Regions from separate parts of the Homo sapiens genome. Here regions 1, 2 and 3 are each linked to region 4. Evidence: fine-mapped expression QTL. A gene starts in region 4. Each other region holds a variant in brackets. All regions are shown on one strand. Distances are between the middles of the regions. Region 1 overlaps TMEM94 (transmembrane protein 94). Region 2 has its middle 12 kb from the start of USH1G. Region 3 overlaps CDR2L (cerebellar degeneration related protein 2 like). Region 4 holds the start of KCTD2 (potassium channel tetramerization domain containing 2).

Region 1 (8,102 bases), 420 kb after region 4:
ATTTTGCAGATGTGGAGATTGTTCGGAGAGGCAAGGCCAGGGTCACCTAGAGCCAAACTAGAATCCGAAAGTCCAGGGGCTTGAGTTCTTTATCCGCTAGACCTAGTTGTTTCCTAGGTGTGACCTGAGGAGATCAAGTTCCCTGACTCCCCTGAGCTCTTGCAGGGTGGCTCTGGGCATTAAAAGCGATGGGCATTAAAAGTAGGATCCTCCTATGCTTCCTGGCAATGACTAGGGTCTTCATACCTGGTTTGCATTCAGTAATTTTAAGAAGCCAGCAGGTAGTTCTCTGGCAGACTTCTTGTATTAATATTCATTGTAGTCTCTGTCTGTATTGGGGGCGTAAATTATTTTAGTGATTCTCAGGGCAGCGAGAGGCAGAGTAAGAGGAAGGTATGCCTCTTCCTTGGTTTTTGGGAACCATTACAGTGTCATTAGAGATGTTATTAACAGGAACGCGTTGCATACAGGAACAGCGTGGAGGCAGAAAAAGATTGAGAGCCATTGAAGAGAGAAGAAATGGCACTGTGGTATCTCTTTATAGTACTTTTGGCAAAAGAAGAGCTGATCTTGGTATTCTGAAGAGGTAGTTTAAAAAAAAAGTTAGATCCTGAGGCATAACTAAAAGAATACAAATAAATAAAAAAATTTAAAGCAATGGCACTAGTAAGGTTCAAAAGAGTCAAAGTAATGCCTGTAATCCCAGCACTTTGGGAGGCTGCTGTGGGAGGACTGCTTGAGCCCAGGAGTTTGAGATCAACCTGGGCAACACACTGACAAGAAAACCAAAAAAATTAGCTGGGCATGGTGGCATGTGCCTGTGTTCCCAGCTACTTGGGAGGTGGATGCCAGAGGATCGCTTGAGCCCAGAAGGTCGACGCTGCAGTGAGCTGTGATCATGCCACTGCACTCACTCTAGCCTGGGCAACAGAGCAAGACTCTGTCTCCAAAAAAAAAAAAAAGAGTCATGGAATCAAAAAGTTTGAAAATCACTGTAAAGATCAGAGCACATTAAAATGTAGACTATTGGCCGGGCGCAGTGGCTCACGCCTGTAATCCCAGCACTTTGGGAGGCAGAGGCAGGCGGATCACGAGGTCAGGAGATCAAGACCATCCTGGCTAACACGGTGAAACCCCATCTCTACTAAAAATGCAAAAAATTAGCTGGGTATTGTGGCGGGTGCCTGTAGTCCCAGCTACTTGGGAGGCTGAGGCAGGAGAATGGCGTGAACCCGGGAGGCAGAGCTTGCAGTGAGCCGAGATCGCGCCACTGCACTCCAGCCTGGGCGACACAGCGAGACTCCGTCTCAAAAAAAAAAAAACAAAAAAAACAAAAACAAATAAAATGTAGACTATGGTGGTTAACCCTAGAACAGGAGACAGCATGTTCAGATAAAATCCTCAAACATTGCAAGTCTTAGCTGCTATGTTAGCTCTAACTTCCTTGCTCACTGGTTCTCTTTGTCAAAACTGCAAACAGGGAAACTGGTGGATACTGTGGAGTAGTGCAATGACCAGGGAGGTGAAGTACAAACCATCTTCTTCATCATCAGCCCCCAAATAATTGAGAGTTAACTGCCCTTGAACCACCAGACCACCATGCCCCTTGTTTGTGGTGACTTGACATCAGATGAGACTGGGAGAGCCAGGCCTTGACAGTGAAATGGAAGAGAAACCCCATGGCATTTCTATTTTGAGAAGTTGCTAGGTGTGCCAGCTCCTAGTGCTGAGAACCAGCCTTTTGGAAACCTTAACTCCTGTAGAAACTAATGAGAAATGAAGGTTGTGATCGTCCTGTTCCTGCCTGCTGCTCTCTCCCTAAGTTGGGCTTGAGAAACAGTTTCTATAGGAGAGGGAGGAGTCCTAATGTAAATACCACCTACACCCAAGGCTGTATGTATTTAGCTTAATCTGATGAATCAGGTTGAACTCGTACCTTAGCAGTCTAAGCCTGAACGCCATAAAGCCTTTAAGTCCATTCCTGGTGTTCAAGTGAGAAGGTTCTGGGTCAGGCGTGGCACTGGTTGGTAAATATGTGTCAATATTTCTTATCTTACTATTGTGTTAGTGTTGTTTTTACGATGGTGTCTTTCTTTACCCAAATGATAGGATTTAAAAATATTGTTTAAAGCCCGTTTCCAAGCAGGCCTGGGTTTGTTTATAGCAGCACAGGTGAACTAGAGGGTAGGCCATGGCTGAAACAGGAATGCTTTTCTTCCGAGCAGACCCGCCAGCCAGAATGTGTGGTTTGGTGATCAGGGGTTTGTGTAATAATAAGCTTTGCCTGTGGCCACTGAGACGGTAGTAAACAGTATGGGTCACATGGCATGACAAGTAGGTTAAGGGCCAGATTTAGACACTGATGGCCTGCGTAAGGAGGAGCAAACCACACACTGCTTGCTTTGGGTTTCTCTAGCTCCCAAGGCCAGAAGTGATGGGAGAGGGGTGAGGGGTGTCAGAGAGAAGAACCTTGAAAGGCTTAGAGTGGTATTTGAGGAACCATAAATTTTAGTGTACTATAATTAAATGAACCCAATTTTCATAACTTCAAGGGCTTCTTGAAAAAGGGGTTCATGGTACCAGTCTTGCTTGGTAGGGAGGTGAATAGAAAAATACTGGGAAACACTTAAAAAAGATGTATGCTGGACAAAGACTCAGGTGTACTGAAAGAGCGTAAACCTTCATTATGTTGACGTGAAAGCCAAGTAGGGAATGTTGCTTAGCTATAAGGCAGAGCCTATTGCAAAATCAGAATCAGGAGCTGCTGATTTTTTTTTTTTTTTTTGAGACAGAACTTGCTCTGTAGCCCATGTTGGAGTGCAGTGGTGTGATTACGGCTTACGGCAGCCTTGATCTTCTGGGCTCAGGTGATCCTTCCACCTTACCCCCTGAGTAGCTGGGACCACAGGCACATGCCACCACACCTGGCTAATTTTTGTATTTTTTACAGAGACGGTTCTTGCCCTGTTGCCCAGGCTGGTCTCAAACTCCTGTGCTCAAGGGATCTGCCTGCCTCGGCCTCCCAAAGTGCTGGAATTACAGGTGGCCAGAAGTTGCCGATTTTTAAAATTAAGGAAAAAAATACATAGTATAACATTTTCCATTGTAACCAGTTCTGTGGCATTAAGTACATTTGCATTGTTGTGCAACCCTCATCACTATCCATCTCCAGAACTTTCTTAGTTTCCCAAACTGAAACTCTGTCACCATTAAACATTTAACTCCCCATTTCCCCCCTGCTCCCACCCCCGGCAACCATCTTTCTACTTTCTGTCTCTGTGATTTTGACTATTCTAGAAACCTCATATAAGAGGAATCATACAACATTTGTCCTTTTGCGATTGGCTTTTTTTTTTTTTTTTTTTTTTTGAGACAGAGTTTTGCTCTATTGCCCAAGGCTGGAGTGCAGTGGTGTGGTCTCAACTTACTGCAATCTCCGCCTCCCGAGTTCAAGCAATTCTCCTGCCTCAGCCTCCGGAGTAGCTGGGAATATAGGTGCACACTACCGTGCCCGGCTAATTTTTGTATTTTTAGTAGAGCCGGGGTTTCGCCATGTTGGCCATGCTGATGTCGAACTCCTGACCCCAGATGATCCGCCTGCTTCGGCCTCCCAAAGTGCTGGGATTACAGGCATGAGCCACCGTGTCCAGCCTGAAGTTGCTGATCTTTTAAAGACATATTGGATACATTCACATGGTTTGAAAATCAAAAGGCACAAAAGTATATGTATTCAAGGGCAGAAAAAAGTATAAAAAAGAATTTTTTTAAAAAGTATATATAGTAAAAATTCTTCCTGCTCCCAACCATTCCCTAGCCACTCAGTTCCAATTTATTAATTTTTCCTTTTGTGGATTATGCTTTTGGTACTGAATCTAAGAAATGTAATCCACAGTAGGCCGGGCGCAGTGGCTCACGCCTGTAATCCCAGCATTTTGGGAGGCCGAGGTGGGCGGATCACGAAGTCAGGAGATCGAGACCATCCTGGCTAACATGGTGAAACCCCGTCTCTACTAAAAATTAGCTGGGCGTGGTGGCGGGCGCCTGCAGTCCCAGCTACTCGGGAGGCTGAGGCAGGAGAATGGCGCGAACCCGGGAGGCGGAGCTTACAGTGAGTCGAGATCGTGCCACTGCACTCCAGCATGGACGACAGAGCAAGACTCCGTCT[CA/C]AAAAAAAAAAAAGAAAAGAAATGTAACCCAAAGTCACAAAGATTTTTTCCTATCTCCTATATAAATTTTACAGTTTTTTTTGTTTTGTTTTGTTTTGTTTTTTTTTTTTTTGAGGCAGAGTCTTCTTGCTCTGTTGCCCAGGCTGGAGTGCAGTGGCACGATCTCGGCTCACTGCAACCTCTGCCTCCTGGGTTCAAGTGATTCTCCTGCCTCAGTCTCCCAAGTAGCTGGGACTACAGGCGCCCACCAGCACTCTCAGCTAATTTTTTTGTATTTTTAGTAGAGACAGGGTTTCATCATGTTGGCCAGGATGGTCTCGATCTCTTGACCTCGTGATCTGCCGGTCTCGATCTCTTTACCTCGTGATCTGTCAGCCTCGACCTCCCAAAGTGCTGGGATTACAGGCGTGAGCCACTGCGCCTGGCCTGAATGTCTTTTATAAGCAGAGTTGAGCATCTTTGCATATGGAGAAGCTATTGGATTTTTGGTTTCACATTCTCTCAGGGTTAGAATTGTCTTCCTACCCTCCACCTCATGTATTAATTATCTCCATAATTTCTCAGCTTCTGCTTGGTTCCCTCTAGTGATGGGAGCTCATTGCTTCACAGGGCAGCCTATTCCATTTTTAAAAATATACAGTTCTAAGGCTGGGCATGGTGGCTGACACCTGTAATCCCAGCACTTTGGGAGGCCAAGATGGGAAAATCGCTTGAGGCCAGGAGTTCGAGACCAGCCTGGTCAACATAAGTGAGACCCCATCTCTATTAAAAAAAATTAAAAATATACAGTTCTAGGCTTGACTCAGTGGCTCATATCTGTAATTCCGGCACTTTGGGAGGCTGAGGTGGGAGGATTTGCTTGAGCCCCAGAGTTCTAGACCAGTCTGGGCAACATAGCAAGACCTTGTGTCTACAAAAAAAAAAAAAGCTGGTCATGGTGGCATGTGTCTGTGGTCCCAGCTACTCGGGTGGCTGAAGTGGAAAGATTGTTTGAGCCCAGGAGTTTGAGACTGCAGTTGCAGTTAGCCATGATCATGCCACTGCACTCCAGCCTGGGCAACAGAATGAGGACATGTCTCCAAAAATAAAAAAAGTAAAAAAAAAAAAAAAAAAAAAAAAAAAAAATATATATATATATATATATATATATATATATATATATATATACACACACACACACATATATATGTGTGTATATATATGTATATATATACGTGTATATATGTATATATATACACGTATATATATGTGTGTGTGTGTGTGTGTATATATATATATATATATACAGTTTAAATTATGTAGAAAGATACTGTACATTTTAAGTCTCAGTCTACTTCTTATAGCATCCTAGTTCCTGTTTTGGGGCCTCCCAGAGTAAGCCTGGCCCTTCTCACTGCTTGTAGCCATTATACCTTTCTAGCCCTGCTTGCACCCAAAGTGTGTTTTTAGGGTACTGGCTAAGCATCTTCAGTTCATTCTGCCATTTCTCACGTCTTAGTTTCTCCAACCTGGTTGCTGCTCTCTGAAATCCTTCCAGTTTTGTTAGTGTCCTTCTTAAAGTGTGTGATGCGCAACTGAACAAGATATTCCAGGTATGCTCTGACATGTACAGAAATCAGACTTCCTCGTCTGTTGTTAGGGACACAGGTATCTGTTAATGCAGCCTAAATGTGAATGAACTTTGAGTGAGCATACACTCATATTGAAATTGCATCTAACTAAGCCATTTGTGGTAGTTTTATACAGTAGTTTTTGAACCTAAGTGCAGGACTTAATATTTTTTCCAGTTAAACTGAACCCCTTTGATTTGGCCCATCACTTCAGCCTGTTGAGAGCTTCTTGGATTTTGACTTTGATCTCCTTTCCAGGTTTATGCTATCCAAGAATTTGATTAGCATACCATCTGTTTCCTCACCCAAGTCATTGATAAAAATATTGACTGTAATGCCACCAAGGATAGAATCCTACAGCTTGCTATTAAAAACTTCCCTCCAGCTTAACACAGATCTATCAATTAGTACCCTGTGGGCACAACTATTAAACCGAATACAGATCCACCTAACCGCATTTTTGGTGTGTTGGGCATGGCTGGCTTACAAGCACAGCTAATGAAGATTGTGCTAGAAGGGATTAGAAGGACAGCCAACTCCTCATCTTGCCCTCAACCTGAGCCTTGGGCTCCCACTTAGTTCTTTTTGACCTTGTTTCTGAGCTTGGCAGCAGGAGGCATCCACCCCTTTGTCTTCATGGCTACTGTTGCCAGCTTTGTCTAGATACTTGGCATGGCAAACCAAGATTATCATCATTTTCTTCTAACTCTTCTGCCTATAATTTCTTTCCTTTTCCCTCTGATCCATTTTCTACCCTCTTAAAATACTGAGAACAGCCTGGGCAACATAGACCCTGTCTCCAAAAAAAAAATTGTCAGGCATAGTGGCACATACCTGTGATCCTAGCTACTCGGGAGGCTGAGGTGGGAGGATCACTTGAGCCTGGGAAGTTGAGGTACAGTGAGCTGTGATCGCACCACTGTACTCCAGGCTGGGCAATAGGGTGAGGCCTTGTCTCAAACAAACAAACAAACAAACCTGGGGCCTACTCAGAAACCCAGACTCTTCAGTGACTCCTCAGAGCCTCTCCATTTTGGCCCCTTATCCCTGTGTATTTTTTCATTTTCTTTCTTTCTTTCTTTCCTTCCTTTCTTTCTTTCCTTCCTTCCTTCCTTCCTTCCTTCCTTCCTTCCTTCCTTCCTTCCTTCCTTCCTTCTTTCTTTCTTTCTTTCTTTCTTTCTTTCCTCTTTTCTTTCTTTCTTGAGACGGAGTTTCACTCTTGTTGCCCAGGATGGAGTGCGATGGCATGATCTCAGCTCACTGCAACCTCCGCCTCCTGAGTTCATGCGATTCTCCTGCCTCAGCCTCCCAAGTAGCTGGGACTACAGGTGCAGTCGGCTGATTTTTGTATTTTTAGTGGAGATGGGGTTTCTCCATGTTGGTCAGGCTGGTCTTGAACTCCCGACCTCAGGTGATCCACCCACCTCAGCTTCCCAAAGTGCTGGGATTACAGGCATGAGCCACTGCACCCGGCTCTTTTTGTTGTTGTTGTTAGAGACAGGGTCTCACTCCGTTTCCCAGGCTGGAGTGTAGTGGCGTGATCATAGCTCCCTGCAGCCTTGAACTCCTGGTCTCAAGATCCTCCTGCGTCAGCCATATTCTCAGTCTTTTTCATTTTAGTCGTTCTAATGGGTGTGTATTGGTCTCTCGTTGTGGTTTTAAATTTTTTTGTAAGACAGGGTCTTGCTATGTTGCCCAGGCTAGTCTCCAACTCTTGGCCTCAAGTCATCCTCCCCCGTCAGCCTCCCAAAGTGCTGAAATTACAGGCGTGAGCCACCATGCCTGGCCTTCTCATTGTGGTTTTAATTTTTGTTTCCCAATAATTAATGTTGTTGACCATCTTTTCATATTCATATTGACTGTTTATATATCTTGTGAAATGTCTGTTCAAATCTCTGCCTGTTTATTATTTATTTATTTATTTTAAGACAAGTTCTCACTTTGTTGCCCAGGCTGGAGTGCAGTGGCGAGATCATGGCTCACTGCAACCTCCAACTCTTGAGCTCAAGTGATCCTCCTGCCTCAGCCTCCCAAGTAGCTAAGACTGCAGGTGTGTGCCAACATGCCTGGCTGAAATCTTTGCTCATTTTAAAATTGGGTTGTTGGTCTTGTTACTGAGCTATAAGAATTTTTATATATATATATATATATATATATTTTTTTTTAATCCCAAAGACTTCAAAACTACTTTTGCTTTTTGAGACGTGATTTTGGTATGTTGCTCAGGCTAGACTCAAACTCTTGGCCTCTAGTGATCTGTCTGCCTCAGCCTCCCAAAGTGCTAGGATTATAGGCATGAACCACTGTGCCCAACGTCAATTTTTTT
Region 2 (8,085 bases), 130 kb before region 4:
TCACTGCCGGGGGCCCGGCGGCGCTGGTGACCGCTCCGAGTGCGGGGCCCGCCAAGCCCACGCCCACCTGGAACTCGCGCTGGCCCACAAGCGCCGTGTGCAGCCCCAGTTCCCGCCCGCACCTCTCCCTCCAGACCTCCCTGCAAGCTGAGGGAGCCAGCTCCGGCCTCGGCCAGCCCAGAAAGGGGCTCCCACAGTGCAGCGGTGGGCTGAAGGGCTCCTCAAGTGTGGCCAGAGTGGGCGCCAAGGCCGAGAAGGCACCTAGAGCAAGCGAGGGCTGCAAGGGCTGCCAGCACGCTGTCACCTCTCAATCCCCCCTGTAAACAGGACACCCCAACTGCTGTTGGGAATTTGGCCAATGACCGTTCTAGCTACTTCCTGCTGGATAGGGGTGATGAAGGGGCCCTGCAGCTGCAGTGTCCTCCAGAGGGGTGCTCTCTAGGCCAGTAAAAGTGCCAGCGGGTCAGTCCAGGGGTCCTCAGTAGAAGTTGTTAGTTGAACTCATTTGGGGTTCCATTTGTAAGACCATCTGTAGCTTGATGGCCTCGATTCTAGAGGAAACAAATTTGACAAGAAGGTTAAAAATACAGGGCCCAAAGGCAAGTAACAGCAAGATGGCTGCCATGGGACCTACAAGGAGAGAAGCCATGTTGCCCAACTCCAGAGGTTGGTATAAGAATTTGAAAGGCATTGCCTGATTTCAGAAGCCTTTTCCTGTAAACGCCAGGTGGCATCTCTTACTATCCCTGACTGGTTAGTGTAAAACCAACACTCTTCCCCTAAGAAGGTGCAGAGTCCTCCTTTCTCAGCAGTGAGGAGGTCTAGGCCTCGGTGGTTTTGGAGAGTCACTGCTGCCAAAGAGTCTATTTGGAATTGTAGAGTAAGAATAGATTTCGTTATTTCTTGCAAACTGTCTGAGAAATCCTTTGAGAGTGTGTGGTAGTAGGATAATGAAGTAGATAAACCAGCTATTCCAGTTCCTGTAGCAGTAGCCATTCCTAACCCTATAATTAGGGGTATTAGTTGTATGGCTCTGCACTGACGGACTTGAGCTTTGAGGGGTACTGATAAAAGTCTGATTTCCTGGGGCAATGTTAATGTTGGGACTTAGAAAGACTAAGGTGCCAGTGCCGGTCCAGTTAGTGGGGAGGCAGATATAGGTCGATGTTCCACATAAGAAGAATATGCCTTGGCTGGGTAGGCAGAACTTTACCTGGCTTTTAAAGGAATAGGGTACACTGTTTTTTCTTTACTATTTCTATCTCTCTCTTTCTCTCTTCGACTTCTTCTTTGTCTCTCTCTTTCTCTCTTTCTCTCTGACTCCCCCTTTGTCTCTTCCTCTCTTTCCTTCTTTTTGTCTCTGTTTCTTCCTCTCTCTTTCTCTGACTTCCTGTCTCTTTCTCTCTTTCCTTTCTGCTGCCTCTGCCAGCTGCTTATGCTGCTGTTCTCCTCTCTCCTCCAGACATGCTGCCTTTAAGAACTGTAACACTCACCGCGAGGGTCCACGGCTTCATTCTTGAAGTCAGTGAGACCAAGAACCCACCAATTCCTGACACATTTTGGCAACCTTGAAGGGACTATCACCTATCACCAAGCGGTGAGACCATTGTGTATCACTGAGTGAAGGGACTATCACCTATCGCCAAGCAGTGAGTACCATCGGACCCCTTTCACTTGCTATTCTGTCCTATTTTTCCTTAGAATTTGGGAGCTAAATACCGGGCACCTGTCGGCCAGTTAAAATCCACTAGCATGGCCACCGGACTAAAGACACGGATGTCAGGCTTTCTGGGAAAGGGCTCTCTAACAATCCCCTACTCTTCGGAGTTGGGAGCGTTGGTTTGCCTAGAACCAGCTTCCACTTTTCCTGTACTTCTGGGCTGAGCCAAGCGTTGACAGAGAGGAAAGCCATGCAGCTCTGGGGTCCCAACAACAAGTTGGTTGACCCTGTGGCCATGAGCAGAACTCTCAAAGGCATGTTGCCCAAGCAAGACTCGCCCATCTATCCTATCTATCCTGACCCTTGTCCCCTGGGTCCTAATGCTTGCCAGACAAACTTCCTCTCACCTATCTTCTCCAAGGTTAGTCCTGCTTCTAAAAATCACTACCTGTCTCTGGTGCTTTTCTAGTTTCTCCTATAAGAATGACTTCTAGTATAAACTCTGTTACCTTCTTTAGGCACCCAGGCTCACCAATCAGAAAGACATAATTTTTGCCCAAAGCCCCATCATAGTGGGACTACCTGGAAATTTAGGATCCCTTCTCAGACAAACAGGCCTAACAAAATCTATTCCTGAAGCTAGGATATGGGGAGCCTCAGAAATTGTATCCTTCCTGTTCATATAAGTGAGGGCAAAAGGTGTCACTCTTCCAACCCTGGAGATCCCTTCCCTCCCTCAGGGTATGGCCCTCCACTTCATTTTTGGGGCATAACATCTTTATAGGACATGGGTAAGGTCCCAATACTAACAGGAGAATGCTTGGGACTCTAACATGTTTTTGAGAATGCGTCAGTAAGGGCCACTAAATCCTATTTTTCTCAGTCCTCCTTGTGGTCTAGGAGGACAGGGAAGGGTGCAGGTTTTCGAGAATGCATAGGTAAGGGCCACTAAATCCAACCTTCCTCGGTCCTCCATGTGGTCTGGGAGGAAAGCTAGTGTTTCTGCTGCCGCGTCAGTGAGCACAACTATTCTGATCAGCAGGGTTCAGGGACCGTTGCAGGTTCTTGGGCAGGGGGAGAAACAAAAACCAAAACCACGGGCGGTTTTGTCTTTCAGATGGGAAACACTCAGGCATCAACAGGCTCACCCTTGAAATGCATCCTAAGCCATTGGGACCAATTTGACCCACAAACCCTGAAAAAGAGGCGGCTTATTTTTTTCTGCACTACGGCTTGGCCCCAATAGCCTCTCCCTGATGGGGAAAAATGGCCACCTAAGGGAAGTACGAATTACGATACTATCCTGCAGCTTGACCTTTTCTGTAAGAGGGAAGGCAAATGGAGTGGAATACCTTATGTCCAAGCTTTCTTTTCATTGAGGGAGAATACACAACTATGCAAAGCTTGCAATTTACATCCCACAGGAGGACCTCTCAGCTTACCCCCATATCCTAGCCTCCCTATAGCTCCCCTTCCTATGAATGATAATCCTCCGCTAATCTCCCCTGCCCAGAAGGAAATAAGCAAAGAAATCTCCAAAGGACCACAAAAACCCCTGGGCTATCAGTTATGTCCCCTTCAAGCTGTAGGGGGAGGGGAATTTGGCCCAACCTGGGTACATGTCCCTTTCTCCCTCTCTGACTTAAAGCAGATCAAGGCAGACCTGGGGAAGTTTCAGATGATCCTGATAGGTACATATATGTCCTACAATGTCTAGGGCAAACCTTCGACCTCGCTTGGAGAGATGTCATGCTGCTGTTAGATCAAACCCTGGCCTTTAATGAAAAGAATGTGGCTTTAGCTGCAGCCCAAGAGTTTGGAGATACTTGGTATCTTAGTCAAGTAAATGATAGAATGACAGCCGAAGAAAGGGACAAATTCCCTACTGGTCAGCAAGCCATCCCCAGTATGGATCCCCACTGGGACCTTGACTCAGATCATGGGGACTGGAGTCATAAACATCTGTTGACCTGTGCTCTAGAAGGACTAAGAAGAATTAGGAAAAAAGCCCATGAATTATTCAATGATGTCCACCGTAACTCAGGGAAAGGAATAAAATCCTTCTGCCTTCCTCAAGCAGCTACGGGAGGCCTTAAGAAAATATTCTCCCCTGTCACTCTAATCACTCGAGGGTCAACTGATTCAAAAAGATAAGTTTATTACCCAATCAGCTGCAGATATCAGGAGAAAGCTCCAAAAGCAAGCCCTGGGCCCTGAACAAAATTTGGAGGCAGTATTAAACCTGGCAACCTCAGTGTTCTATAATAGGGACCAAGAGGAACAGGCCCGAAAGGAAAAGCAAGATCAGAGAAAGGCCGCAGCCTTAGTCATGGCCCTCAGACAAACAAACCTTGGTGGCTCAGAGAGGACAGAAAATGGAGCAGGCCAATAACCCGGTAGGGCTTTTTATCAGTGTGGTTTACTAGGACACTTTAAAAAAGATTGTCCAATGAGAAACAAGCTGCCCCCTCGTCCATGTCCACTATGCCGAGGCAATCACTGGAAGGTGCACTGCCCCAGAGGATGAAGGTTATCTGGGTCAGAAGCCCCCAACCAGATGATCTAACAGCAGGACTGAGGGTGCCCGGGGCAAGCACCAGCTCATGTCATCACCCTCACTGAGCCCCGGGTA[C/T]GTTTAACCATTGAGGGCCAGGAAATTGACTTCCTCCTGGACACTGGCGTGGCCTTCTCAGTGTTAATCGTTAATCTCCTGTCCTGGATGACTGTCCTCAAGGTCCATTACCATCTGAGGAATCCTGGGACAGCCTGTAACCAGGTAGTTCTCCCACCTCCTCAGTCGTAATTGGGAGACTTTGCTCTTTTCACATGCCTTTCTTGTTATGCCTGAAAGTCCCACACCCTTATTAGGGAGGGATATATTGTCCAAGGCTGGAGCTATTATCTACATGAATATGGGGAACAAGTTACCCATTTGTTGTCCCCTACTTGAGGAGGGAATCAACCCTGAAGTCTGGGCACTGGAAGGACAACTTGGAAGGGCAAAAAAATGCCTGCCCAGTCCAAATCAGGTTAAAAGATCCCACCACTTTTCCTTATCAAAGACAATATCCCTTAAGGCCTGAAGCCCATAAAGGATTACAGAATATTGTTAAACGTTTAAAGGCTCAAGGCTTAGTAAGGAAATGCAGCAGTCCCTGCAACACCCCAATTCTAGGAGTACAAAAACTGAAAGGTCAGTGGAGACTAGTGCAAGATCTTAGACCCATCAATGAGGCAGTAATTCCTCTATATCCAGTTGTACCCAACCCCTATACCCTGCTCTCTCAAATACCAGAGGAAGCAGAATGGTTCATGGTTCTGGACCTCAAGGATGCCTTCTTCTGTATTCCCCTGCACTCTGACTCCCAGTTTCTCTTTGCCTTTGAGGATCCCACAGACCACACATCCCAACTTACATGGACGGTATTGCCCCATGGGTTTAGGGATAGCCCTCATCTGCTTGGTCAGGCACTGGCCCAAGATCTAGGCCATCTCTCAAGTCCAGGCACTCTGGTCCTTCAATATGTGGATGATTTACTTTTGGCTACCAGTTCGGAAGCCTCATGCCAGCAGGCTACTCTAGATCTCTTGAACTTTCTAGCTAATCAAGGGTACAAGGTGTCTAGGTCGAAGGCCCAGCCTTGCCTACAGCAGGTCAAATATCTAGGCCTAATCTTAGCCAGAGGCACCAGGGCCCTCAGCAAGGAACCAATACAGCCTATACTGGCTTATCTTCACCCTAAGACATTAAAACAATTAAGGGAGTTCCTTGGAATTACCGGCTTTTGCTGACTATGGATCCCCAGATACAGCAAGATAGCCAGGTCCCTCTATACTCTAATCAAGGAAACCCAGAAGGCAAATACTCATCTAGTAGAATGGGAACCAGAGGCAGAAACATCCTTCAAAACCTTAAAGCAGGCCCTAGCACAAGCTCCAGCTTTAAGCCTTCCAACAGGACAAAATTTCTCTTTATACGTCACAGAGCAGGGATAGCTCTTGGAGTCCTTACTCAGACTCGTGGGACAACCCCACAACCAGTGGCATACCTAAGTAAGGAAATTGATGTAGTAGCAAAAGGCTGGCCTCACTGTTTAACGGTAGTTGCAGCAGTGGCCATCTTAGTGTCAGAGGCCATCAAAATAATACAAGGAAAAGATCTCACTGTATGGACTACTCATGATGTAAATGGCATACTATGTGCCAAAGGAAGTTTATGGCTATCAGACAACTGCCTACTTAGATACCAGGAGCTACTCCTTGAGGGACTGGTGCTTCAAATATGCACATGCGTGGCCCTCAACCCTGCCACTTTTCTCCCAGAGGATGGGGAACCAATCGAGCATGACTTTTATGGTCCAGACTTATGCCACCCGAGATGATCCCTTAGAAGTCCCCTTAGCTAATCCTGACCTTAACCTATATACCAATGGAAGTTCATTTGTGGAGAATGGGATATGAAGGGCAGGTTACGCCATAGTGAGGTAACCATACTTGAAAGTAAGCCTCTTCCCCCAGGGACCAGGGCCCAGTTAGCAGAACTAGTGGCACTTACCTGAGCCTTAGAACTGGGAAAGGGGAAAAAGAATAAATGTGTGCGGACTTGGAGAAACTTTACGTCTAGCTAAGGGATTGTAGATACACCAATCAGCACTCTGTGTCTAGCTCAAGGTTTGTAAATGCACCAATCAGCACTCTGTGTCTAACTCAAGGTTTGTGAATGCACCAATCAGCACTCTGTATCTGGCTAATCTGGAGGGGACTTGGAGAAGCTTTATGTCTAGCTAAGGGATTGTAAATACACCAACCAGCACTCTGTGTCTAGCTCAAGGTTTGTAAATACACCAATCAGTGCTTTTCGTCTAGCTAATCTAGTGGGGAGTTGGAGAACTTCTGTGTCTAGCTCAGGGATTGTAAACACACCAATCAGCACCCTGTCAAAACAGACCAATCAGCCCTCTGTAAAACAGCCCAATCAGCTCTCTGTGAAATGGACCAATCAGCAGGATGTGGGTGGGGCCAGATAAAGGAATAAAAGCAGGCTGTCCAAGCAGCACTGGTAACCCGCTGGGGTCCCCTTCCACACTGTGGAAGCTTTGTTCTTTCACTATTTGCAATAAATCTTGCTGCTTCTCACTCTTTGGGTCTGCACCGCCTTTATGAGCTGTAACACTCACTGCGAAGGTCTGCAGCTTCACTCCTGAGGCCAGCGAGACCATGAACCCACCGGGAGGAATGAACGACTCTGGACGGGAGGAAAAAACAACTCCAGATGCACCACCTTAAGAGCTGTAACACTCACCGCGAAGGTCTGCAGCTTCACTCCTGAAGCCAGCGAGACCACGAACCCACCAGAAGGAAGAAACTCCAAACACATCCGAACATCAGAAGGAACAAACTCCGGACATGCTGCCTTTAAGAATTGTAACACTTACCGTGAGGGTCTGCAGCTTCGTTCTTTAAGTCAGTGAGACCAAGAACCCACCAATTTCGCATACACTGGGACCACAAGTGCACACCACCAACCAGGTTAATTTTTAAATGTTTTGTAGAGATAGGGTCTTGCCACGTTGCCCAGGCTGGTCTGGAACTTCTGGGTTCAAACAATCCACTCACCTCTACCTCCCAAAGTGCTAAAACGTCCCTTTTTTTTTTTTTTTTTTTTTTTGAGACGGAGTCTCGCTCTGTCGCCCAGGCTGGAGTGCAGTGGCGCAATCTCGGCTCACTGCAAGCTCTGCCTCCCGGGTTCACACCATTCTCCTGCCTCAGCCTCCCAAGTAGCTGGGACTACAGGCGCCCACCACCACGTCAGGCTAATTTTTTGTATTTTTAGTAGAGACAGAGTTTCACCATGTTAGCCAGGATGGTTTCGATCTCCTGACCTCGTAAATGTCCCTATTCTTGATCTAAATCTTTAGGGAAATGAGTCATGAAAGTTGAGCCCCTACCATGTAATATTTTCTCCTCTTTGCTTGTGTTGAACATCCCCACAGGCTCCCTGGAGCAGCTCCTGCTCCTGGCACCCCAGGCTTCTGCCCTGGAGCCACACTGACCCATGGAGCCCCTCATCCTGCTGCCTCTGGTTCATCTCTGCTGGGATGCCAAAGTGCCCCTCGGCTCTCTGTCTTGTCATTCCTCACCCGTGTCCTCTTCTGGACCATCGCGGCAAGGACCAGTGAGTCTTTCCTGAGGTGGGTGCAGTGACCAGGATGGCCAAAGAAGCCGCAGGGAGGTGCGCCCCCAGGGCATGGCTGGTGGAATCCTGTTGTGTTAGCGCCCTTGGCAGCCTGAGTGTGAGGAGAGCATGGCAGCAGCCAGAGACCCGCGTTCTGGGTCTGACTCTTCCCCTCTGTGGGCCTCAGTTTTTCCATCTGTAAAGTGGAGGGAGGTGGCTTGGAACCCCTGGATGGTTGCTAGGCAACCTT
Region 3 (8,102 bases), 40 kb before region 4:
AATGACAGTCACAGCAGCTGGCGTTTACTGAGCCCTGGCTGTGTGCTGCCACTATGCTGATATAATTCTTATTGCAACACTGTTGGGGGTGTTTTATTATGCCTACTCTCCAGATGATAAAACTGAAGCCCAGAGGTTGTGTGTCTTATCCAAGGTCACCTGTTTAGTAAGAGGCTCAGCCAGCATGCTAACCCAGGAGGGGTAACCCACTGTGCTTTTCAGTTCCCATTAAATCTAACACTAGACAACCACTTAATAATGGAAAAATACATGTGTCATATGTAGTGGGTGTTTCAATAAGGGTCCTGGCAGGAAACAGTCTCTTACACAGAGTAATGGAGAAGTTAAATGAAGAAGAGGTGTGGGCAGGGGGTAGGGAAACCACAGGGACACTATAGTGCCCCAGGGTTGCAGCAGAGAGGAGCTGCCACCAGCCCTAGGCCTCAAAGCGCAAGGGGGAAGGGAGGTTACCGGCACCTGGAAGGTATGGAGAAGGCTGCCTGGTCACCATTAACCATGGAGAGCCCAAAGAAGACACACCCCACGGCCTCTGCTCCCCCCTCGGACCTCTAGCCAGTGCCTCTCATGGGCCAAGCTCAGGAGAGAACCAGGCAACCTGACAGAGGCGGTCCGTAGTGGTCAGCCTCCGGGGGCAGAGAGCAGGGGGAGAAGGGTGGAGGAGGGTGGAGAGCCAACGGAGAGGGGCAAACAATTTCAGCCCAGAGAACAAGAGAGATGTAAGCGCCCTGGCTGGGCTGCTCGGCCTTGGCCGTGCCCGTGACCACTGCCCTCTCCTCCGCCCCCACCCCGCTGCGACTCTCACTACCCGCCAGGTGCAAGGATGCTTTCCGCCTACACAGTTCCTCCCTGGAGCTGGGCCCGCGGCCCCTGGAGCAGGAGAACGAGCGGCTGCAGACCCTGGTGGGGGCGCTGCGCTCCCAGGTGAGCCAGGAGCGGCAGCGCAAGGAGCGGGCGGAGCGCGAGTACACCGCGGTGCTGCAGGAGTACTCGGAGCTGGAGCGCCAGCTGTGCGAGATGGAGGCCTGTCGCCTGCGTGTGCAGGAGCTGGAGGCCGAGCTGCTGGAGCTGCAGCAGATGAAGCAGGCCAAGACCTACCTACTGGGTCCGGACGACCACCTGGCCGAGGCCCTGCTCGCACCCCTCACGCAGGCCCCTGAGGCCGACGATCCCCAGCCCGGCCGCGGGGACGACTTGGGCGCCCAGGACGGGGTCTCCTCACCGGCAGCCTCTCCAGGCCACGTGGTGCGCAAGAGCTGCAGCGACACTGCGCTCAACGCCATCGTGGCCAAAGACCCAGCCAGCCGGCACGCGGGCAACCTCACACTGCACGCCAACAGCGTGCGCAAGCGGGGCATGTCCATCCTGCGGGAGGTGGACGAGCAGTACCACGCGCTGCTGGAGAAGTACGAGGAGCTGCTGAGCAAGTGCCGGCAGCACGGGGCCGGAGTGCGGCACGCCGGCGTGCAGACCTCGCGCCCCATCTCCCGGGACAGCTCGTGGAGGGACCTGCGCGGGGGTGAGGAGGGCCAGGGTGAGGTCAAGGCAGGAGAGAAGAGCCTGAGCCAGCACGTGGAGGCCGTGGACAAGCGGCTGGAACAGAGCCAGCCCGAGTACAAGGCGCTCTTCAAAGAGATCTTCTCCAGGATCCAGAAGACCAAGGCTGACATCAACGCCACCAAAGTCAAGACGCACAGCAGCAAGTGACCCTTCTCCGGCCTGCAGCCTCCCCCAGGGTGGAAGCCGTGGGGTCCCTCAGGCCTGGGCGGTGCAGCTTCCAGAGAGCGAGCGCCCTTTAGCGGCCTGCCACCACAGCACGCGGCCTCCTGATCCGGAAGCACGCAGCATGTTCCCTGCTGAGCGGAGGCAGCCCACCTGTCCTGCCTCCCAGGAGCCCTTGGCCACCTCGCGCCAGCCCAAAGGCGCAGCTCTGAGTTCAAAGCCAAATGTCCCCACTACCCCAGGGATCCCCCAGCTCCCCCAGCCCCTGGCTTCCTGACCCTGCGCCTCACCCTCAGACTGGTGACCAGGCTTCTGAAAGCCATTCTGGATCAGTTGGCTTTTTTTTTTTTTTTGGTTAAGTTTGTTTTTTCTAAGAGATTTGCAATGCAAGGTCTCCTTGACCCCTTGCCACAACTGGAAACACTTGAAAGGGGACCCCAGGGCCAGCTGTTTCAGGGGTTTCCTGGACCACCCACTGCTTCTCCCCAACCCTGATGCGCTGACATTCCCTTAGCACCAGCTGTCCCACCTCCAGGGTCCTGACCAGGTCAGAGATGTCCCCTGCCATGCAGAGCAGGAAGCCTCAGCTGGGCCTGGAGTGTCCCTGCTCCAGCCCTGCCAGGGACAGGTTTCTCCCTGGATACTCTTGGCCCACCGCAGATCTGTAGCCAGTCAGAGGAGGAGGAGAAGGAGCCCCTCAGCAGAGTGGTGCAGTTTCGCTCAGAGCTTGTCTCCTTGGCTTCCAACCCCAGAAATGCCTGCTGGGCCTTAAGCTTTCCAGGGGCCGGGGCAGTGGGGAGCCCCCATCCCTTCACACCGCCACCAACTAACCAAGCTTGGCCTCTGACTCCCGTCTCTGTGCTTGCCCCCATCTCAGGGACCATGATGTCTCAGTCACTCCACGCTCCCCACAGGCCAACCCTGGCACAGGTCATGTCTGCAGCCCCCAGAATGTTCTGGACATGCACCACCAGCCGGTGGTCCCAATGTCCACCCCTGCCTCCCCTTCACTGGGGACTGGGGTTTTCGCCCCATGCTGCATCGTGTTGTATTGGGATGGGGCTGAGGAACATGCTCCCTCCCTCCCTCCCATAAAATGCCTGCTCTTCACCTCCCACCTTTGTGGGGGGCTTTTGAGGACCCAGCTGCGTCAGGAGTTTTGCTTCAAGATGTCAGAAAGTCAAGTTCAGCTAAGAGACACCCAGGTCCCCAGCTTGCCCTGAGCAGCCCTTCAGGGCTTCTGGTTCCTTCTGCCGCCCTTCCTGAGACCTTAGAAACCAGAAGAGCCATACAGTCAGTGGAAGGCGGGGGGGCCCTGGCCTCTGCACCGGGATCCCAGTGGGAACCTTCATGCCTTATTTATTTCTAATGGGTAAAGGGGTTTTCTTACCAAGCATCCCTGACCTCCTGGAGACACCACCTGCTTTCCGGGCGGCACTGTGATGGGAGCTGGTGGCGACTGAGTCCTTCTGTACGTGCAACTGGGAAACTTTTGTCCTTTGAGGCTAGGCAGCTCCCTGCCCTCCGTGTGTGTCTGTTATCTGGGGGAGAGGAGTGTGGAAGGGTTGGGGGAAGAGCTCCAGCCTGTCTGCTCCCCAGCTCTGTAGTGGCAGACCAGCGTCACCTTTGAAGTATACGTGAGAGAAATATATTTACAAATGCTTTATTCTCTTCTTTAATAAAAAATGCACCAGTATTCTAAAAGCAAAAATGGCCCATCTCTGTGCATCTCACACACCTGCCTCGCGTCACGCCCAGCCATGGGAGAGGGTAACATCCTGTGTCCCACTTCCCTGAGACTGAACAGCTCCAAATAGCAGGCTCTGGCAGAAGTTTCTATATTTATTGAGGGCCAGCTAGGGATACATGGTGAACAAGCCAGCAGGGCCCCTCTTCCCTTGGAGTTTATATTCTGGTGTGGGGAGATCCACCCAAAATAAACAAACAAAAGATACGGCATGATGGAAAAATCGGGGCAAGAGGGTAGTGCTACCTCAGCTAGAGCACGTGGGCCCAACAGGGTGAACCAAGTTAAAAAAAAAAAAAAAATCGGCCTGGCGCGGTGGCTCATGCCTGTAATCCCAGCCCTTTGGAAGGCCAAAGTGGATTGCTAGAGCCCAGAAGTTTGAGACCAGCCTGGGCAACATAGCAAGACCCCCTTTCTACAAAACATTTTTTGAAAATTAGCAGAGCATGGTGGTGTGCATTTGTAGTCCCAGCTACTCAGGAGGCTGAGGTGGGAGGATCACGAGCCTGGGAGGTCAAAGCTGAAGTGAACTATGATCATACCACTGCACTCCAGCCTGGGCAACAGAGCGAGACCCTGTCTCAAAAAATCATATCTAGATATATAAATACAGCACATGAAGAGATATACAGTGTTACTAAAATTCCTGGGGGAGCAATTCGGAGAAAATGTCTAAATAGGCTCTTTGAGGTAGGAAGGGGGAGCGATCATGGAAAAAAAAGATTGAGAAATGCTAAGCGAGGGTGGTCAGGGCACCTCTGGAGAGGTGATGATGAAGCTGAAACCAGAAGGCTGAGGAGGAACCAACGGGAAGATAAGTGGAGGCCCAGGGAGCAGCTGGGGCAGTGGGGGGTGGCCAGAACAGAGGGTGGAGGCCAGGCTCCTAAGAGCCCGGAAGGTTCAGGGGAGCTCGGGCCTCCTAAGTGCAATGAGACGCCACGGCAGGAAGTCCAGGGCCAGACTGATGCCCTGAAGGACCATGAGGGATGGGGAAGTTGACCTGCCCTTGGTGAGCCACCCATTGATGACACAGGACAGTCACAGGAATGACAAGAGGGCCATCTCCTGGTGTTTTTCAAGCTGATAAACCCCATATCTCTCTTCCATATACATGAAAAACCTCACCACTCCCATTCTTCCTCAGATATCTGTCTCCTCCCCATGTTATACAGAGGACGGTACATAGAGGGGTTCATCTTCTGGAGGGGTCCCCATCACCAAGATTACACCAGCCTCCCTCTTGTTCTGGAAGTGCCGTCAATCCGTTGGGTTTTCTGTTTTCCTCAATGCAAAATGATAGGCCGGGCGAGGTGGCTCATGCCTGTAATCCCAGCACTTTGGGGGGCTGAGGCAGGCAGATCATGTGACATCAAGAGTTCGAGACCAGCCTGGCCAACATGGTAAAACCCTGTCTCTACTAAAAATACAAAAATCCTAGCTACTTAGGAGGTTGAGGTGGGAGGATCACTTGAACCGG[G/A]AAGAAGAGGTTGCAGTGAGCCGAGATCGCACCACTGCCCTCCAACCTGGGTGACAGAGCAAGACTCCGTCAAAAAAAAAAAAAAAGCAAAATGATAGCGGTTTTTCAAACTTCCCATGCTCCACTCAGCCCTCTCCAGATTTAGTAATGTCCATCCTGAACTTAAGAATTGCTGTCCAAGAAAAAATTAGCCAGGCATGGCGGTGGCCGCCTTTAGTCCCAGCTACTCGGGAGGCTGAGGCAGGAGAATGGTGTGAACCTGGGAGGCGGAGCTTGCAGTGAGCTTAGATCGCGCCACTGCACTCCAGCCTGGGCGACAGAGTGAGACTCCGTCTCAAAAAAGAATTGCTGTCCAAGCTCAGATACTGGAAGCCTAGAAACAGGACTGTGGATCCTGATCAAAGGGGGCACCTCTAGGGTATCTTCCTTCGCCTCACACTGCCAACGCTACCCACCCCTTCTCGCACCAGCAGCCTGGGTGGACCTTTCCGATGGGGGACTTCCAAAACCAGAGAGGAAAATGCTCCTGAATCTTTGAGGGGTTTCTTGCTAGCTTCACTCTCTCGTCTCCAGACAAAAAAAGGCAGCTCTGTGGACTCCAGTTCCACCAGCCCACACAACCTGAGTCTGTGGAAAAGCTTCCAAAGTCTTCTAAGGGAGGTAGACTCAGGGGCCAGCTGGAACTGGGGGGAAATGCAGGCTTCTCCCCAAAACTCCTTCCCCAAATGTCCTGATGGGGAACAACTTCCCTTGAACTCAGGAGGGGAGGAAAGTGTGGTGTGGGGCTGGGCATGGTGGCTCATGCCTGTAATCCCAGCAATTTGGGAGGCGGAGGCAGGAGGATCACTTGAGCCCAGGAGTTGGAGACCAGCCTGGCCAACATGGCAAAACCCCATCTCTACTAAAAACACAAAAATTAGCCAGGCATGATGGTGTGTACCTGTAATCCCAGCTACTCCGGAGGCTGAGGTACAAGAGTTGCTTGAACTCAGGAGGCTGAGGTTACAGTGAGCCTAGACCACACCACTGCACTCCAGCCTGGCGACAGAGTGAGACTCAGTCTCAAAAAAAAAAAAAAAAAAGTGTGGTGTGGCAAGCCCAAGGCTGGGCCCCAAACTGCTGTGCTTAGTACATCAACTGAACAGCATGGGGCTTTTACAAGGGCAGCGTGCAAGTGGCTGTTGGGTTTTCCCATCCTGTTGTCACCTGTCGTCACCAGGATGGGGAGCAGGTGGTGGTGACCACATGGAGCAGTCACACCTGAGAGACGAAGGAAGCCGTGGCGTGAATCCAGCCACCCTTTTCTCCCTCAGCCTTTTTTTTTTTTTTTTTAGACAGGGTCTTGCTCTGTTGCCCAGGTTGGAGTGCAGTGGCACAACTGTAGCTTACTCGGCCTCCAGCTCCTGGGCTAAAGTGATCCTCTCTCTTCAGCCTCTCCAGTAGCTGGGACTATGCTGGCTAATTTTTTTTTTTTTAATTTTTTGTAGGGACCAGGTCTTGCTATATTGTCCAGGCTGGTCTTGAACTCCTGGGCTCAAATGATCCTCCCACATTGGCCTCCCAAAGTGCCGGGATTACAGGAGTAAGCCACCATGCCTGGCCTCCCTCAGCTTTCTAAACCGCCCTCTGGATGCATTTCTTTCCCTTCTTCCCTCCTTTCTTTCCCTTCTTCCCTCCTGATCACCACTTTGTCCTTGCTCTGTGGACAGATACTCCCTGCTGCAGGGAGCTCCTCCCCGCCCCCCGGCCCCTGCCCCATTCTCTCCTCCCCTGAACTGGCACCCTTCTCCTCTCCCAGGGCCAAACCCACCACCCCACTTAGGGAGGGCAGCTAGCCAAACAGACCTGCCTCTGCCCTCCCTGGGGATCCTGAGCTGAGAGCTGGGGGGTGGCCTCAGTTTTAGGGGACCAGGCAGATAAGGGGTAGCAATGAAGGAAGTACTTTCCAGGGAGAGGTGGGCAGCTCTGTGCTGCCCATCCCCTCAGGGAAGAAGGAAAGAGGGTTGGAATACAGCTCGTCAGACTGGATTTCCCACTCCAGGGCTACAGAGGAAAAAAGACAACAGTAATCAGGTGTCTGAAAGAAAAGTGTCCCTTAAGGAACCTGCATGCACATAGCATCCCTTAGCAGCAGCTAATTTTTGTTGCCTGCTGACTTCATGCCAAGCACTGTGTTAAGTGTTTTATATGTGTTTACTATCCTCAGGAACTTTATGAGATGACTATAAAATCTCCATTTTACTGATGAGGATACAAAAACTTAGAGGTCAGGTTAGTAATTCAAGGTCACATAGAAATATTCAAACTCGGCTGGGCATAGTGGCTCATGCTTATTATCCCAGCACTTTGGGAGGCCAAGGTAAGTGGATTGCTTGAGCCCAGGAGTTCAAGACCAGCCTGGGCTGGTAGAGACAAGAAACCTTGTCTCTACAAAAATACACAAATTATCCAGCACATGCCAGTAATCCCAGCTACTTGGGAGGCTGAGGTGGGAGGATAGCTTGAGCCGGGGAGGCCGAGGTTGCAGTGAGCCGTGATCATACCAGCACTCCAGCCTGAGTGACAGAGCGAGACCTTGTCTCAAAAAATAATAATAATACAATTTTAAAATGAAGTCATAGTCACAGTTACCAGCAGTTAGGACATGGACACATTTTTCTATTTTTTTAATAAAAAAATAAATATTTAAACTTAGTCCTGACCAATCCACCATGCCTCATTGCACATTCCCTATCTACACATAATGATGAGTTTTGTTTTGTTTTGTTTTGTTTTGTTTTTTGACGGAGTCCTGCTCTGTCACCCAGGCTGGAGTGCAGTGGCACAATCTCAGCTCACTGCAACCTCCACCTCCTGGGTTCAAGCGATTCTCCAGCCTCAATCTCCCGAGTAGCTGGGATTACAGGTGCATGCCACCATGCCCAGCTAATTTTTGCATTTTTTTAGTAGAGATGAGGTTTTGCCATGTTAGCCAGGCTGATCTTGAACCCCTGACCTCAGGTGATCCACCCACCCTGGCCTCCCAGAGTGCTGAGATTACAGGTGAGAGCCACCACACCTGGTCAATGATGAGTTTTAAGAGGCCATCTGGTGGGGCATGGTGGCTCATGCCTGTAATCCCAGCACTTTGGGAGGCCG
Region 4 (8,102 bases):
AAGCCAGCCTTGGCCACATTGGCCTTGTAGTAAGCCCAGTCGATAGCTGGTGGATTCTCAGGTAAAGCAGCCAACCTGCCCACAAGGAAAGGCAAAAGTTAGGATTGTTCATAAGCAGTAGAAAATTCACATGGTAATTTTCCTATCCCTTCTTCCTATGGCCTGGAGGGTCACCACACTTTCCTCTCCTAAGATCATCATGAAAATGCAAGGATTTCTTTATATGTTGTCATAAGGGCATCAAGAATTCATATGTAATTCCTTAATACTGTTTTGTTTCTAGATTCAGTGGCAAGTATGGGGTTCCCTCTCAGAAACATACTGACCTGGAGGTGAGGGTCTCATTCCAGGATTTCAGGGAACTAGCAATGGCCTTTTGGTTCTGGGGTATGATCTCTGCAAAAGCTACCCAGTCAATGGTTTTTAGAGCAAGTTTTCGCCCAGCCATTTTGGGATCCTGAAAAATAAGTCAAATAAAAACAAGGCTTTTTTATGAGGTGAATTTTCAGTTGGGAAAAATGATAAATAACAAAATAAGAGCTCTTAGAGAGAATCCTTTAAATCTTAGAAACATGCAAGTCTTCACAAGAATCACTTGAACCCAGGAGGTGGAGGTTGCAGTGAGTCGAGACTGCATCACTGCACTCCAGCCTGGGAGACACAGCAAGACTCCAACTCAAAAAAAAAGAAAAAAAGACAGTGTAGCTTTTCAAATTCAAGGTAATTCAAGGTGTGCGGCCAGGCGCAGTGGGCTCACGCCTGTAATCCCAGCACTTTGGGAGGCCAAGACGGTTGGATCACCTGAGGTCAGGAGTTCGAGACCAGCATGGCCAACATGGCAAAACCCCATCTCTATTAAAAATACAATAATTAGCCAGCCGTGGTGGCCCGCGCCATAATCCCAGCTACTCCAGAGGCTGAGGCATAAGAATCACTTGAACCCAGGAGGCAGAGGTTGTAATGAGCTGAGATGGCATCAGTGCACCCTAGCCTGGGCAACACAGCAAGAGTCCGTCTCAAAAAGAAAAGGAAAGGACAGTGTAGCTTTTCAAATTCAAAGTGTGCAATGTGGCATACAAATACATTCTCTCCCAACTCCTATTTAGCCTTAAAAGCCCAGCTCTCTTGGCCGGGCGCAGTGGCTCATTTCTGTAATCCCAGCACTTTGGGAGGCTGAGGTGGGTGGATCACTTGAGGTCAGGAGTTCAAGACCAGCCTGAGCAATAGGGTGAAACCCTGCCTCTACTAAAAAATACAAAAATTAGCCGGGCGTGATGGCATGCACCTGTAGTCCCAGGTACTCAAGAGGCTTAGACAGGACAATCACTTGAACCTGGGCGGCGGAGGTTGCAGTGAGCTGAGATAGCGCCATTGCACTCCAGCCTGGACACAGAGTGAGACTCTGTCTCAAAAAAAAAAAAAAAAACAAACCCCAGCTCTCTTTATCCCCTCCATGTGCCTCTGGAAAAATTACTAAAAATAACACTCTTATTGCATAAAAGTTAATAAAGACATTTCCACCCAGATTGTGTTTTATTCACTGATTCTCCAGTAGACAGAAACTGACACACACCTAAGTTTCAACAAGCCTTAAATAGAGCACTCTCTAGGCTAAAATTTACTTATGTGTACAATGGGCATTATCAGTCCTGCTTGCCCCAGAGGGCTGCTAAAAGTGTCACATGAAATTGTGCACAGCAACTTGCTCCAGAGTTTTACAAACTTAAAAGGGCTATCCCCTTCCAACTAGATTGGTAATACACCTGCACCTTCTTATTCACATCGGATTATACCCTAGCAGCACCAGCACACGTTGTGCACTTTTTTTTTTTTTTTTTTTGAGATGGAGTTTCACTCTGTCCCCCGGGCTGGAGTGCAGTGGCATCATCTTGGCTCACTGCAACCTCCACCTCCCAGGCTCAAGCGATTCTCCTGCCTCAGCCTCCGGAGTAGCTGGGATTACAGGCACCCACCACCACACCCAGCTAATTTTTGTATTTTTTTTTTTTTTTTTGAGACGGAGTCTCGCTCTGTCGCCCAGGCCGGACTGCGGACTGCAGTGGCGCAATCTCGGCTCACTGCAAACTCCGCTTCCCGGGTTCACGCCATTCTCCTGCCTCAGCCTCCCGAGTAGCTGGGACTACAGGCGCCCGCCACCGCGCCCGGCTAATTTTTTGTATTTTTAGTAGAGACGGGGTTTCACCTTGTTAGCCAGGATGGTCTCGATCTCCTGACCTCATGATCCACCCGCCTCGGCCTCCCAAAGTGCTGGGATTATAGGCGTGAGCCACCGCGCCCGGCCCTAATTTTTGTATTTTTAGTAGAGACAGGGTTTCTCCACGTTGGCCAGGATGGGCTGAAACTCCAGACCTCAGGTGATCCACCCACCTCAGCCTTGCAAAGTGCTGGAATTACAGGCATGAGCCACCGCGCCCGGCCTGCATTTTAAGAGGTATTCAACACATGTGAAAATGTGAGAAAAATACAGAAAACGACTACAGCCACTTAAAAAAAAAGTCAGAATATAGGAAAATAGTCCTCTTTAAGTAAGATCAGGGTCAGATATTAAAAGACTGCAAAGTCAAAAATCTCTATAAGCTTGGAGTGGAATGCAAGGGAGGCGGAAGCAGTCTTTCTCAGGATCTTCAAGAAAGTTGTCAAACACCTGTCCTGTCCTTCCTTTCTTTCTCAGGACAGCCTGTTTCCTGTTGTGGAGGGGAGGTGTTAAGGCAATTGGCATGTGATTTTAAAGTTACCAGGGAACCAAGCACCCTTACAGACTTTCCCAAACATCAGTGTATCGGGGAACTTGCCCCGATAGTCACATAGGTTCTTTTCTATTTTCCTAAGCGTCGACTGGCTTGACAGAGTACAAAAGAGAGAAATTTTAAAGCTGGGCGTCCGGGGGAGACATCACACGTTGGTAGGATCCGTGATGCCCCACAAGCCACAAAAACCAGCAAGTTTTTATTAGGGAGTTTCAAAAGGGGAGGGAGTATACGAATAGGTGTGGGTGACAGACATCAAGTACTTAACAGGGTAATAGAATATCACAAGGCAAGTGGAGGCAGGGTGAGATCACAAGACCACAGGACCAGAGCGAAATTAAAATTGCTAATGAAGTTTTGGGCACCATTGTCATTGATAACATCTTATCAGGAGACAGGGTTTTCAGATCAACCGGTCTGACCAAAATTTATTAGGTGGGAATTTCCTTTTCCTAATAAGCCTGGGATCGCTATGGGAGACTGGAGTTTATTTCACCCCTGCAGTCTCAACCATAAGAGACAGGTACGCCCCAGGGGGGCCAGTTCAGAGACCTACCCCTAGGTGCGCATTCTCTTTCTCAGGGATATCCCATGCTGAGAAAAAGAATTCAGCGATATTTCTCCCATTTGCTTTTGAAGGAAGAGAAATATGGCTCTGTTCTGCCCGGCTCACCGGCGGTCAGAGTTTAAGGTTCTCTCTTGTTCCCTGAACAATTGCTGTTATCCTGTTCTTTTTTCAGGGTGCCCACATTTCATATTGCTCAAACACACATGCTGTACAATTTTTGTAGTTAACACAATTATTACAGGGTCCTGGAACGATATACATCCTCAACTGACAGGATTAAGAGATTAAAGACAAGACAGGCATAGGAAATCAGAAGAGTATTGACTGGGGAAGTGATAAGTGTCCATGAAATCTCTACAATTTATGTTTAGAGATTGCAGTAAAGACAGGCATAAGAAATTACAAAAGTATTAATTTGGGGAACTAATAAATGTCCATAAAATCTTCACAATCCACGTTCTTCTGCCATGGTTTCAGCCGGTCTCTCTGTTTGGGGTCCCTGATTTCCCGCAACATCAGTGGAAAATGGAAGTCACAAATAACTTTGTGTGTGTGTGTGAGTGAGACGGAGTCTCGCACTGTCGCCTGGGCTGGAGTGTAGTGGCGTGGTCTCGGCTCACTGCAACCTCCGCCTCCCGGGTTCAAGCGATTCTCCTGCCTCAGCCTCCCGAGCAGCTGGGATTATAGGGGCCTTCCACCACGCCCAGCTAATTTTTTGTATTTTTAGTAGAGGCGGGGTTTCACTACGTTGGCCAGGCTGGTCTCGAACTCCTGACCTCGCGATTCGCCCGCCTTGGCCTCCTAAAATTCTGGGATTACAGGCGTGAGCCACCGCGCCCGGCGAAATTTTTTTTAATTCTTAAAAATCTATTGCTTAATCCCCAGCGCCTAGAACAGATCATGCGCATAGGAGGTGCTCAATGAATCTTTCTTGAATGAGTAACCGAACTCTGCACCCGAGGAGCCCTGAACGCTCTATACGTTCGAATCCTGGAAGCTGCCGAAGGGGAAGGGCGCAGCCCCGCAGCCAGCTGAGCGTCCCTCGGCAGGTTAACACTGTCTGCGTAATGTTTCCCCAGTCCCCCCACCAAACTATTGAAGTCTGCCGCGCTGGGAGCGGACTGCACGAGACACGGCTTGTGGCAGCGCCTACATCAGCGGCGCCTGGGACACAGCCGGGCCCCCCTGACCCCGCGCGCCAAGGAGGGCTGAGGAAGGGATCGCGGGGCGAGGAGCGGCAGCTACACAAGGGACACTCTGCCAGCGGGGCAAGCCGAGGGCCCAGCGTCCTTGACGGGGGCGTGACAAGGGTCGGCGTGAGGTTTGGAGAGGGCAGAGCAGAGGAGCCCTCCAGGGATCGGATCCAATGCCCCAAGCCCCACTCACCTTCACCGACCCTGGCTGCCCACGGTCCTCCGCAGCAAGTAACGGAAGTGGGTCACGGGAAGATCTTTCCTCAGCCAACCCCAAAGCCAAGGGGGTGGGCCTTGCTTCGCAGATCAGCCAATAGAGATGAGGGCTGGTTCCGGAAGTATCTTCCCGGGGGCGGGCACAGCGCCTCCCCCGCGCGGGTCCCCGGGCGCTGGTTGGGGGCGCTCCCGTCCCTCTCCCCTCTGCCCCACCCCCGCCGATGGGCCGGCCCGGCTCTCCCTGCCGAGAAATGGGCCGGCCCGGCTGCGCGCGGGCAGCAGCGGTGGCGGCGGCGGTCCAAGATGGCGGAACTGCAGCTGGACCCGGCGATGGCGGGGCTGGGAGGGGGCGGCGGGAGTGGGGTGGGCGACGGGGGTGGCCCAGTCCGCGGGCCCCCCAGCCCACGCCCGGCTGGCCCCACGCCCCGCGGGCACGGCCGCCCGGCTGCCGCCGTCGCGCAGCCGCTGGAGCCGGGTCCCGGACCACCCGAGCGGGCAGGGGGCGGCGGCGCGGCCCGCTGGGTCAGGCTGAACGTGGGAGGCACCTACTTCGTGACCACCAGACAGACCTTAGGCCGGGAGCCCAAGTCATTTCTCTGCCGCCTCTGCTGCCAGGAGGACCCGGAGCTGGACTCAGACAAGGTGTGCCCCGCCCTCGGGCGCGCCCCCGGGCCTTCGAACCCCCTGGTTTCTCGTAGATCGGTCCCCAGAGTCCTGAGACACGCTCCTCACAGGCAGCCCCCTCAGGCCGGGACCCCATCCTCCCCCTCCCTCCCACACTACTCGCAGGGGCCTCAGAGGGACCTCCCACTCCCCTTCTTCCATGCTGAGGCATACTCTGGCTTTCTCCCCGACCCCGCCCTTCGTTCTCTGAGACTCCTTCCCACACTGCGCCCACCTGCACCCACGAGAACGCACTCCACACCCCTTCTCCATATTCTCTGCCCCTGACATCCCACTGAGATCTGCATGAGTTTTCCCTGGCTCCTCTTCAGTCCCCCCACTGCCGGTGCCAGATGCATCCAGAACTGGGTCAGGGTTAGCTCAGGCATCCTTGTAGCTTTCTCAGACTCCCTCTCGGACCCCTCTGCCAAGTTGGGCTTCCACAGCTGCAGGAAGCGCTCCTTGTGATATCACACTGCTTTTCTATAGTCCTGGTCGCAGAACTTTTATCTGTTAACAGTCACTGGTTTAGGTCCATATTTAGATCAAATGCGTTTTTTGGAAAGAGGTTACTGTTTGCCGCTGCAAATCTAGGCTAAGACAGAAGGAAAATGAAAATTTTCCCGGGAAAATTTTGGGCAGGATGCATGGCTGCTAACCAAAGGGTTGAGAGGTGACAAGACACTTAAACCATTTCCAGTTTGAACTGTGTCAATTTCTTTTTAACTTTACGTATTCACCTTTAAGTTCTCAACTTAAAGGCACTGACCATAACTCACACCATCTTATATCCCATATAGCACTCAGCTGGTGACCTCAAAACAGAGCTGGAGTTGCGTAAACATTTGTTGTTTTCGTTTATTCCTCTTCTCTAAGAAATCTCAGATTGATGGAAACCTATCCTGCCCTAACTTTAAAGAGATTTCAAAACCCTTGCTTATAAAGGAATTATTTTTATCTACTCTATATCCTCCTTGTGGTAATAGAAGCCAGTTTCTTCTTGTTCCTTTTACTGTAAAGATGAGTAGGATTAAAGCTGCTCAGAGCCAAGTCCTGGCAGTACCGAGCTTCCTCTGGGCACAGAGCTGGGGTGTGTGAGATTACAGCTGGCAGTGCAAACTCCCACTGATGTTGGCCTTGAGCTCAGGAGCATTGCCAACTACACAGAGGTTTTCTTGGAATTAGGAATGCAGTTCAGAGGCAGTGGAAAAGTCAGAATGTCCATCTCAAGCAAAGATTTCAGTTACACAGCTACGGCATTTTCTCCCTTTCTTAATAACAAACACGCTACAGAAGAATGTTTGTCACTGTAATTATTGTCCAGGCAAAGATTGCAAATTCCAGCCAGTAAGTAAACGCCTAAATGAGTATGACTGTCTGTAACACCCTACCTAAGATGATCTTAATGTACAAGATACATAAAGCTATAGCTTTCTTACCAATAGTTTGTGACAAATGTGTAACAAAATTTGCCATCACTAAAGTCTTTTTTAGCTGATGGAATGAATTGTTGTCTTGGGGCGCTGACAAAGATGGTGAAATCCTGCCCTGCCTTTGTTTAAAATACTCCTCAAAGGTCCACAATGATACCCTTGTGTTTGGTTGGCAGGATGAGACAGGAGCCTATCTGATTGACAGGGACCCCACCTACTTTGGTCCTATCCTCAACTACCTCCGCCACGGGAAACTCATCATCACTAAGGAGTTGGCAGAAGAAGGTAAGCGCACTGTTTGCATTGGGGATTTTCAAAATGCAAGTAGAATCTTTAAAGTTGTTTTACAGATTTCAATTTTGTTTGACATTTTCATCAGGCGCATGTGCAGGTATAGTTTCAGGTTTATGAAACAGAGCAGAAACTACCAGTCTTGTCTGAGGGAGTCATGATTAAGGAAGCCTCCTTAGGCTTTGTTCAGCTTCCTGGGTGAGAAGGAAGATAGGTAGCTCCGCTTTGCAGATAACTTCAGGAGTTCTTTCCGAATCTCCAGAATTGTCACGATCCTTTTTTTACATTTGTTTGTGTGCTAGCAGTGAGTGTCTGTAGTCTGAAGAAGCAAGACATCTCTGACATTCAATTATTTATAGTTTTAATTTTGGTTTGAACTCACAGTTGTACAAAAATAATAAAGGCTTGGCCTCATTTCTTTTAAGACTCTGGCCTCATGCTTCCCTGTAAATGTTTGCAGCTGACCTAATTCATTCTCTAGTTCATTGTCAGGTGTATCATTACTTGCCTCATCTTTGTGGTTTGTAGGGCATTGGGACTATAAGTGGGTCTAGTCCACTTTCTACAAGGCTTGGCATGGTCCCACTGAAGGCATTCAGTTGTAAAGGGGACTGTCCCTAAATCCAGGGCACCCTGATCTGGGAGCTTTGGCTCTGAGTAAGAAAGCTTGTAATGGCTGTACTAGTTAATGAAGTGACTGTGAAACAACTCTGTTTCAGCTAGTAGAAAGAGGAATTGCTCTCTCTCTCTTTTTTTAAATGTCCCTTTTTAAACAATATTTCAAACGCATACAGAAGTAATGGGAATAGTACATACAGTGAATTCCTTGCATCCACTATCCAGCTTCAACAATTACCAACTCATGGGTGATCTTAATCTTATTTATTTTTCTTTTTTAATTTTTGTAAGTACCTAGTAGGTGTATATATTTATGGGGTACATGAGATTTTTCTTTTTTTTTTCTTCGCTC

The links. PIP is the estimated chance that this variant, and not a neighbour inherited with it, causes the effect.
Region 1: its variant is fine-mapped to the expression of KCTD2 in whole blood (INTERVAL, PIP above 0.99).
Region 2: its variant is fine-mapped to the expression of KCTD2 in whole blood (INTERVAL, PIP above 0.99).
Region 3: its variant is fine-mapped to the expression of KCTD2 in whole blood (INTERVAL, PIP above 0.99). The same link has a PIP of 0.9 or more in lung.

What each region holds. Positions count from the first base shown.
Region 1 is chr17:75,457,748-75,465,849 of GRCh38, forward strand. The region is part of intron 1 of TMEM94 (transmembrane protein 94); the gene reads left to right. Among named protein-coding and RNA genes, the nearest start is that of TMEM94, 5.2 kb to the left of the region's middle. RefSeq lists a silencer at 2,138-2,187. The variant CA/C (reference allele first, on the strand shown) is at 4,166.
Region 2 is chr17:74,907,297-74,915,381 of GRCh38, forward strand. No RefSeq gene overlaps it. Among named protein-coding and RNA genes, the nearest start is that of USH1G, 12 kb to the right of the region's middle. The variant C/T (reference allele first, on the strand shown) is at 4,293.
Region 3 is chr17:75,002,350-75,010,451 of GRCh38, forward strand. CDR2L (cerebellar degeneration related protein 2 like) reads left to right here. Exons shown (of 5, transcript NM_014603.3): 5 at 834-3,451. The coding sequence ends at 1,725. Among named protein-coding and RNA genes, the nearest start is that of MRPL58, 6.3 kb to the right of the region's middle. The variant G/A (reference allele first, on the strand shown) is at 4,965.
Region 4 is chr17:75,042,203-75,050,304 of GRCh38, forward strand. KCTD2 (potassium channel tetramerization domain containing 2) reads left to right here and starts at 5,023. Exons shown (of 6, transcript NM_015353.3): 1 at 5,023-5,387; 2 at 7,018-7,126. The coding sequence starts at 5,049. ATP5PD (ATP synthase peripheral stalk subunit d) reads right to left here and starts at 4,767. Exons shown (of 6, transcript NM_006356.3): 1 at 4,723-4,767; 2 at 327-457; 3 at 1-75. The coding sequence starts at 448. RefSeq lists enhancers at 4,234-4,303, 4,242-4,827, 4,712-5,006 and a silencer at 4,704-5,133.